Homo sapiens: one gene and its partner. The protein of the gene in region 1 interacts with the protein of each later gene in a biochemical or structural test. Each region holds a gene or a part of one and is shown in the gene's direction. Other genes may lie near its edges.

Region 1 (4,155 bases):
TGAGCTATGGAGATGATGAGGACTCCCTCAGCAGCGCCTACATCCAGCGGGTCAACACTGAGCTCATGAAGGCTGCCGCTCGGGGTCTCACCCTGCTCTTCGCCTCAGGTGACCTCCTACCCTAAACTTAGACAATGCTTACACCTCTGCAGCCTGGGAGCTTTGACTCCACAGTGATCCCTGAGCCTGGTCTCTGACTCATAATCTGAACTCAGACCTTCCAGTAGGGACCACTGACCTGACCTCTACACTCTGACCTCCTACAGTAACAAATTTCCCCTCTGACATCCGAACCCACATACTAAGCCCTAACCAATTAATATGAATGCTACACTTGGTCTCTCTCAGGTGACAGTGGGGCCGGGTGTTGGTCTGTCTCTGGAAGACACCAGTTCCGCCCTACCTTCCCTGCCTCCAGGTAAGTACTCTAGCCTACCACTCAGGTATAACCACCACCTTTCACTTGTGATCTCATGATGTAGAACCTTTGTCTTGACCCCACCATGTGCTCCTGTGGTTCAGCCTTAAGCTTTGCCTGCCCTGGTTGCTGTACTCCTGTCTCTTCTTCCTGCAGGTCCCAGGCCCCAAATCTCTTGTGTGGGATACAGCTCCCATTGTTCCTTTTCGTCAGTTCCCAGGCATTTTAGTGGAAGATTTGGTGGGTGTTCTGTAGAGAAAAGTGTGCACAGTCACCTCGGGCCATGCCTTGAAGGCTCAAAATCTCTTAGTCAATCCCATATACATGCTTCCCCACAGAGTCTAGTTCCTCCAGCAAGACCTGGGCTATACTCACCCCTCCCCACATATCTTGGAGGTCCCCTTGGGTCCCCTACTATCCAAATGCTGTCTTCTCCCCTCAGCCCCTATGTCACCACAGTGGGAGGCACATCCTTCCAGGAACCTTTCCTCATCACAAATGAAATTGTTGACTATATCAGTGGTGGTGGCTTCAGCAATGTGTTCCCACGGCCTTCATACCAGGTACGTGTGTTTGTGTGGATGGATGCAGGGTAAGAGTGAGGATGGGGGATCCTCAGTTCAGCTGACTGCTGGGCAGGCCACATGCCAATACTCACTCAAAAATGCCTTTCAGGAGGAAGCTGTAACGAAGTTCCTGAGCTCTAGCCCCCACCTGCCACCATCCAGTTACTTCAATGCCAGTGGCCGTGCCTACCCAGATGTGGCTGCACTTTCTGATGGCTACTGGGTGGTCAGCAACAGAGTGCCCATTCCATGGGTGTCCGGAACCTCGGTGAGAATCAGCCCATCTCCAAACTCTCACTCAGGAACTACCCTTACCCCCTAACACCTTGAACACCTTGCACCTAGAACCCCTGACTCCTTAGAGATGTCTGATACTTTAAAGCATCACTCCCAAAAAGTCCAATCACTCAGAACCCCTGACCTCTACTTGCACCTTCACTCTTGTAGGCCTCTACTCCAGTGTTTGGGGGGATCCTATCCTTGATCAATGAGCACAGGATCCTTAGTGGCCGCCCCCCTCTTGGCTTTCTCAACCCAAGGCTCTACCAGCAGCATGGGGCAGGACTCTTTGATGTAAGTATGGAAGGGAAGGGTGTGGACGTTTTCAAACAACTATGGGGAGTGCTAAGGGGGACTTGGGGGCAGTTAGGGTGGTGTGGAATAGCCTTTGAAATGTGAGTACAGGGTGAGGAGATATACTCTTTAAGTACTGGTACTAGTAGGCCCAGATCTGATGCCAGCCTCCTCCCTAGGTAACCCGTGGCTGCCATGAGTCCTGTCTGGATGAAGAGGTAGAGGGCCAGGGTTTCTGCTCTGGTCCTGGCTGGGATCCTGTAACAGGCTGGGGAACACCCAACTTCCCAGCTTTGCTGAAGACTCTACTCAACCCCTGACCCTTTCCTATCAGGAGAGATGGCTTGTCCCCTGCCCTGAAGCTGGCAGTTCAGTCCCTTATTCTGCCCTGTTGGAAGCCCTGCTGAACCCTCAACTATTGACTGCTGCAGACAGCTTATCTCCCTAACCCTGAAATGCTGTGAGCTTGACTTGACTCCCAACCCTACCATGCTCCATCATACTCAGGTCTCCCTACTCCTGCCTTAGATTCCTCAATAAGATGCTGTAACTAGCATTTTTTGAATGCCTCTCCCTCCGCATCTCATCTTTCTCTTTTCAATCAGGCTTTTCCAAAGGGTTGTATACAGACTCTGTGCACTATTTCACTTGATATTCATTCCCCAATTCACTGCAAGGAGACCTCTACTGTCACCGTTTACTCTTTCCTACCCTGACATCCAGAAACAATGGCCTCCAGTGCATACTTCTCAATCTTTGCTTTATGGCCTTTCCATCATAGTTGCCCACTCCCTCTCCTTACTTAGCTTCCAGGTCTTAACTTCTCTGACTACTCTTGTCTTCCTCTCTCATCAATTTCTGCTTCTTCATGGAATGCTGACCTTCATTGCTCCATTTGTAGATTTTTGCTCTTCTCAGTTTACTCATTGTCCCCTGGAACAAATCACTGACATCTACAACCATTACCATCTCACTAAATAAGACTTTCTATCCAATAATGATTGATACCTCAAATGTAAGATGCGTGATACTCAACATTTCATCGTCCACCTTCCCAACCCCAAACAATTCCATCTCGTTTCTTCTTGGTAAATGATGCTATGCTTTTTCCAACCAAGCCAGAAACCTGTGTCATCTTTTCACCCCACCTTCAATCAACAAGTCCTCAATCAACAAGTCCTACTGACTGCACATCTTAAATATATCTTTATCAGTCCACAAGTCCTTCCAATTATATTTCCCAAGTATATCTAGAACTTATCCACTTATATCCCCACTGCTACTACCTTAGTTTAGGGCTATATTCTCTTGAAAAAAAGTGTCCTTACTTCCTGCCAATCCCCAAGTCATCTTCCAGAGTAAAATGCAAATCCCATCAGGCCACTTGGATGAAAACCCTTCAAGGATTACTGGATAGAATTCAGGCTTTCCCCTCCAGCCCCCAATCATAGCTCACAAACCTTCCTTGCTATTTGTTCTTAAGTAAAAAATCATTTTTCCTCCTCCCTCCCCAAACCCCAAGGAACTCTCACTCTTGCTCAAGCTGTTCCGTCCCCTTACCACCCCTGATACAACTGCCAGGTTAATTTCCAGAATTCTTGCAAGACTCAGTTCAGAAGTCACCTTCTTTCGTGAATGTTTTGATTCCCTGAGGCTACTTTATTTTGGTATGGCTGAAAAATCCTAGATTTTCTAAACAAAACCTGTTTGAATCTTGGTTCTGATATGGACTAGGAGAGAGACTGGGTCAAGTAAGCTTATCTCCCTGAGGCTGTTTCCTCGTCTGTTAAGTGTGAATATCAATACCTGCCTTTCATAATCACCAGGGAATAAAGTGGAATAATGTTGATAACAGTGCTTGGCACCTGGAAGTAGGTGGCAGATGTTAACGCCCTTCCTCCCTTGCACTGCGCCCCCTGTGCCTACCTCTAGCATTGTAACGACCACGTAGTATTGAAATGGCCAGTTTACTTGTCTGCCTTCCTTTCCAAGACCGTTGGTGCCTAGAGGACTAGAATCGTGTCCTATTTAACTTTGTGTTCCCAGGTCCTAGCTCAGGAGTTGGCAAATAAGAATTAAATGTCTGCTACACCGAAAACCTCACGCCTCTCATTCGTTGTGATTTTTGCATATGTTGTTGACTCAGGCTGAAACTCCTCCTCCTCCTACAGCAGCACTGTGTGCCGCCCCACTGCTGCCCCCACCTCTCGGGGCAGCTGGCGGAGAAGAGAGGGGGCTTTCCAAATCCACTATGAATCCTTAAAAGGCTGAATAAGGGAACTTGAAACGATGCAGACAGGCAGGCAACCCGTAGTCGAGGGACATAGGGCCATAAACGTCGAAGCCAGGTCTTGAGCGTCAGACAGAATGAGGTGTCCCAGAGCGGCGGAGGAGAGCCAGACGCACGCTGGTTCCGGTCTGGACGGAATCGCCGCGGAGCACGGCAGAGGCTAGGGCGGAATGGCTACGGCAGCGCAGTTCGCCAAGGCTCGGTCTCCGCCCTGCAGCCTATTTCCTCTAACCCGCAGATCCACTATGGGAGGAGGCGGGGAGCGGGCTGGAGAGCACTAACAGAGACAGGCGGGGCGAGTCGTGGGC
Region 2 (3,500 bases), on another chromosome or scaffold:
TGAGGTCTCCAGGCCCTCGGTGAGCTGGAGGTATGGAGTCCGGATGATGCAGGTCCGGGGTGAGGTCGCCAGGCCCTGCTGTGAGCTGGATGTGTGGTGTCTGGATGGTGCAGGTCTGGGGTGAGGTCACCAGGCCCTGCGGTGAGCTGGGTGTGCGGTGTCTGGATGGTGCAGGTCTGGAGTGAGGTCGCCAGACGGTGCCAGACCGTGCGGTGAGCTGGATATGCGGTGTCCGGATGGTGCAGGTCTGGGGTGAGGTTGCCAGGCCCTGCTGTGAGTTGGATGTGGGGTGTCCGGATGCTGCAGGTCCGGTGTGAGGTCACCAGGCCCTGCTGTGAGCTGGATGTGTGGTGTCTGGATGGTGCAGGTCTGGGGTGAGGTCGCCAGGCCCTGCTGTGAGCTGGATGTGTGGTGTCTGGATGGTGCAGGTCTGGAGTGAGGTCGCCAGGCCCTCGGTGAGCTGGATGTGCAGTGTCCAGATGGTGCAGGTCCGGGGTGAGGTCGCCAGACCCTGCGGTGAGCTGGATGTGCGGTGTCTGGATGGTGCAGGTCTGGAGTGAGGTCGCCAGGCCCTCGGTGAGCTGGATGTATGGAGTCCGGATGGTGCCGGTCCGGGGTGAGGTCGCCAGACCCTGCTGTGAGCTGGATATGCGGTGTCCGGATGGTGCAGGTCAGGGGTGAGGTCTCCAGGCCCTCGGTGAGCTGGAGGTATGGAGTCCGGATGATGCAGGTCCGGGGTGAGGTCGCCAGGCCCTGCTGTGAGCTGGATGTGCGGCGTCTGGATGGTGCAGGTCTGGGGTGTGGTCGCCAGGCCCTCGGTGAGCTGGAGGTATGGAGTCCGGATGATGCAGGTCCGGGGTGAGGTCGCCAGGCCCTGCTGTGAGCTGGATGTGCGGCGTCTGGATGGTGCAGGTCTGGGGTGTGGTCGCCAGGCCCTCGGTGAGCTGGAGGTATGGAGTCCGGATGATGCAGGTCCGGGGTGAGGTTGCCAGGCCCTGCTGTGAGCTGGATGTGCTGTATCCGGATGGTGCAGGTCCGGGGTGAGGTCGCCAGGCCCTGCTGTGAGCTGGATGTGCTGTATCCGGATGGTGCAGGTCTGGGGTGAGGTCACCAGGCCCTGCGGTGAGCTGGTTGTGCAGTGTCCGGTTGCTGCAGGTCCGGGGTGAGTTCGCCAGGCCCTCGGTGAGCTGGATGTGCGGTGTCCCCGTGTCCGGATGGTGCAGGTCCAGGGTGAGGTCGCTAGGCCCTTGGTGGGCTGGATGTGCCGTGTCCGGATGGTGCAGGTCTGGGGTGAGGTCGCCAGGCCTTTGGTGAGCTGGATGTGCGGTGTCTGCATGGTGCATGTCTGGGGTGAGGTCGCCAGGCCCTTGGTGGGCTGGATGTGTGGTGTCCGGATGGTGCAGGTCCGGCGTGAGGTCGCCAGGCCCTGCTGTGAGCTGGATGTGCGGTGTCTGGATGGTGCAGGTCCGGGGTGAGGTAGCCAAGGCCTTCGGTGAGCTGGATGTGGGGTGTCCGGATGGTGCAGGTCCGGGGTGAGGTCGCCAGGCCCTGCGGTTAGCTGGATATGCGGTGTCCGGATGGTGCAGGTCCGGGGTGAGGTCACCAGGCCCTGCGGTTAGCTGGATGTGCGGTGTCTGGATGGTGCAGGTCCGGGGTGAGGTCGCCAGGCCCTGCTGTGAGCTGGATGTGCTGTATCCAGATGGTGCAGGTCCGGGGTGAGGTCGCCAGGCCCTGCAGTGAGCTGGATGTGCTGTATCCGGATGGTGCAGGTCTGGCGTGAGGTCGCCAGGCCCTGCGGTTAGCTGGATATGCGGTGTCGGATGGTGCAGGTCCGGGGTGAGGTCACCAGGCCCTGCGGTTAGCTGGATGTGTGGTGTCCGGATGGTGCAGGTCTGGGGTGAGGTCGCCAGGCCCTGCTGTGAGCTGGATGTGCTGTATCCGGATGGTGCAGGTCCGGGGTGAGGTCGCCAGGCCCTGCGGTGAGCTGGATGTGCTGTATCCGGATGGTGCAGGTCTGGCGTGAGGTCGCCAGGCCCTGCGGTGAGCTGGATGTGCAGTGTACGGATGGTGCAGGTCCGGAGTGAGGTCGCCAGGCCCTGCGGTGGGCTGTATGTGTGTTGTCTGGATGGTGCAGGTCCGGGGTGAGTTCGCCAGGCCCTGCGGTGAGCTGGATGTGTGGTGTCTGGATGCTGCAGGTCCGGGGTGAGTTCGCCAGGCCCTCGGTGAGCTGGATATGCGGTGTCCCCGTGTCCGAATGGTGCAGGTCCAGGGTGAGGTCGCCAGGCCCTTGGTGGGCTGGATGTGCCGTGTCCGGATGGTGCAGGTCTGGGGTGAGGTCGCCAGGCCCTTGGTGAGCTGGATGTGCGGTGTCCGGATGGTGCAGGTCCGGGGTGAGGTCACCAGGCCCTCGGTGATCTGGATGTGGCATGTCCTTCTCGTTTAAGGGGTTGGCTGTGTTCCGGCCGCAGAGCACCGTCTGCGTGAGGAGATCCTGGCCAAGTTCCTGCACTGGCTGATGAGTGTGTACGTCGTCGAGCTGCTCAGGTCTTTCTTTTATGTCACGGAGACCACGTTTCAAAAGAACAGGCTCTTTTTCTACCGGAAGAGTGTCTGGAGCAAGTTGCAAAGCATTGGAATCAGGTACTGTATCCCCACGCCAGGCCTCTGCTTCTCGAAGTCCTGGAACACCAGCCCGGCCTCAGCATGCGCCTGTCTCCACTTGCCTGTGCTTCCCTGGCTGTGCAGCTCTGGGCTGGGAGCCAGGGGCCCCGTCACAGGCCTGGTCCAAGTGGATTCTGTGCAAGGCTCTGACTGCCTGGAGCTCACGTTCTCTTACTTGTAAAATCAGGAGTTTGTGCCAAGTGGTCTCTAGGGTTTGTAAAGCAGAAGGGATTTAAATTAGATGGAAACACTACCACTAGCCTCCTTGCCTTTCCCTGGGATGTGGGTCTGATTCTCTCTCTCTTTTTTTTTTCTTTTTTGAGATGGAGTCTCACTCTGTTGCCCAGGCTGGAGTGCAGTGGCATAATCTTGGCTCACTGCAACCTCCACCTCCTGGGTTTAAGCGATTCACCAGCCTCAGCCTCCTAAGTAGCTGGGATTACAGGCACCTGCCACCACGCCTGGCTAATTTTTGTACTTTTAGGAGAGACGGGGTTTCACCATGTTGGCCAGGCTGGTCTCGAACTCATGACCTCAGGTGATCCACCCACCTTGGCCTCCCAAAGTGCTGGGTTTACAGGCTAAGCCACCGTGCCCAGCCCCCGATTCTCTTTTAATTCATGCTGTTCTGTATGAATCTTCAATCTATTGGATTTAGGTCATGAGAGGATAAAATCCCACCCACTTGGCGACTCACTGCAGGGAGCACCTGTGCAGGGAGCACCTGGGGATAGGAGAGTTCCACCATGAGCTAACTTCTAGGTGGCTGCATTTGAATGGCTGTGAGATTTTGTCTGCAATGTTCGGCTGATGAGAGTGTGAGATTGTGACAGATTCAA

Evidence for each region. The genes of interacting proteins can lie anywhere in the genome.
Region 2: the proteins of TPP1 (region 1) and TERT form a complex in vitro, tested with the Homo sapiens proteins (2 studies listed by BioGRID and IntAct).

The regions. Positions count from the first base shown.
Region 1 is NC_000011.10:6,612,268-6,616,422, reverse strand, and holds the end of TPP1 (tripeptidyl-peptidase 1 preproprotein), read left to right. Parts: coding exon 1-108; intron 109-348; coding exon 349-418; intron 419-860; coding exon 861-981; intron 982-1,093; coding exon 1,094-1,252; intron 1,253-1,431; coding exon 1,432-1,557; intron 1,558-1,736; coding exon 1,737-1,877; 3' UTR 1,878-3,655; downstream 3,656-4,155. UniProt on the Homo sapiens protein: Lysosomal serine protease with tripeptidyl-peptidase I activity. May act as a non-specific lysosomal peptidase which generates tripeptides from the breakdown products produced by lysosomal proteinases. Requires substrates with an unsubstituted N-terminus.
Region 2 is NC_000005.10:1,281,569-1,285,068, reverse strand, and holds part of TERT (telomerase reverse transcriptase), read left to right. Parts: intron 1-2,444; coding exon 2,445-2,640; intron 2,641-3,500. UniProt on the Homo sapiens protein: Telomerase is a ribonucleoprotein enzyme essential for the replication of chromosome termini in most eukaryotes. Active in progenitor and cancer cells. Inactive, or very low activity, in normal somatic cells.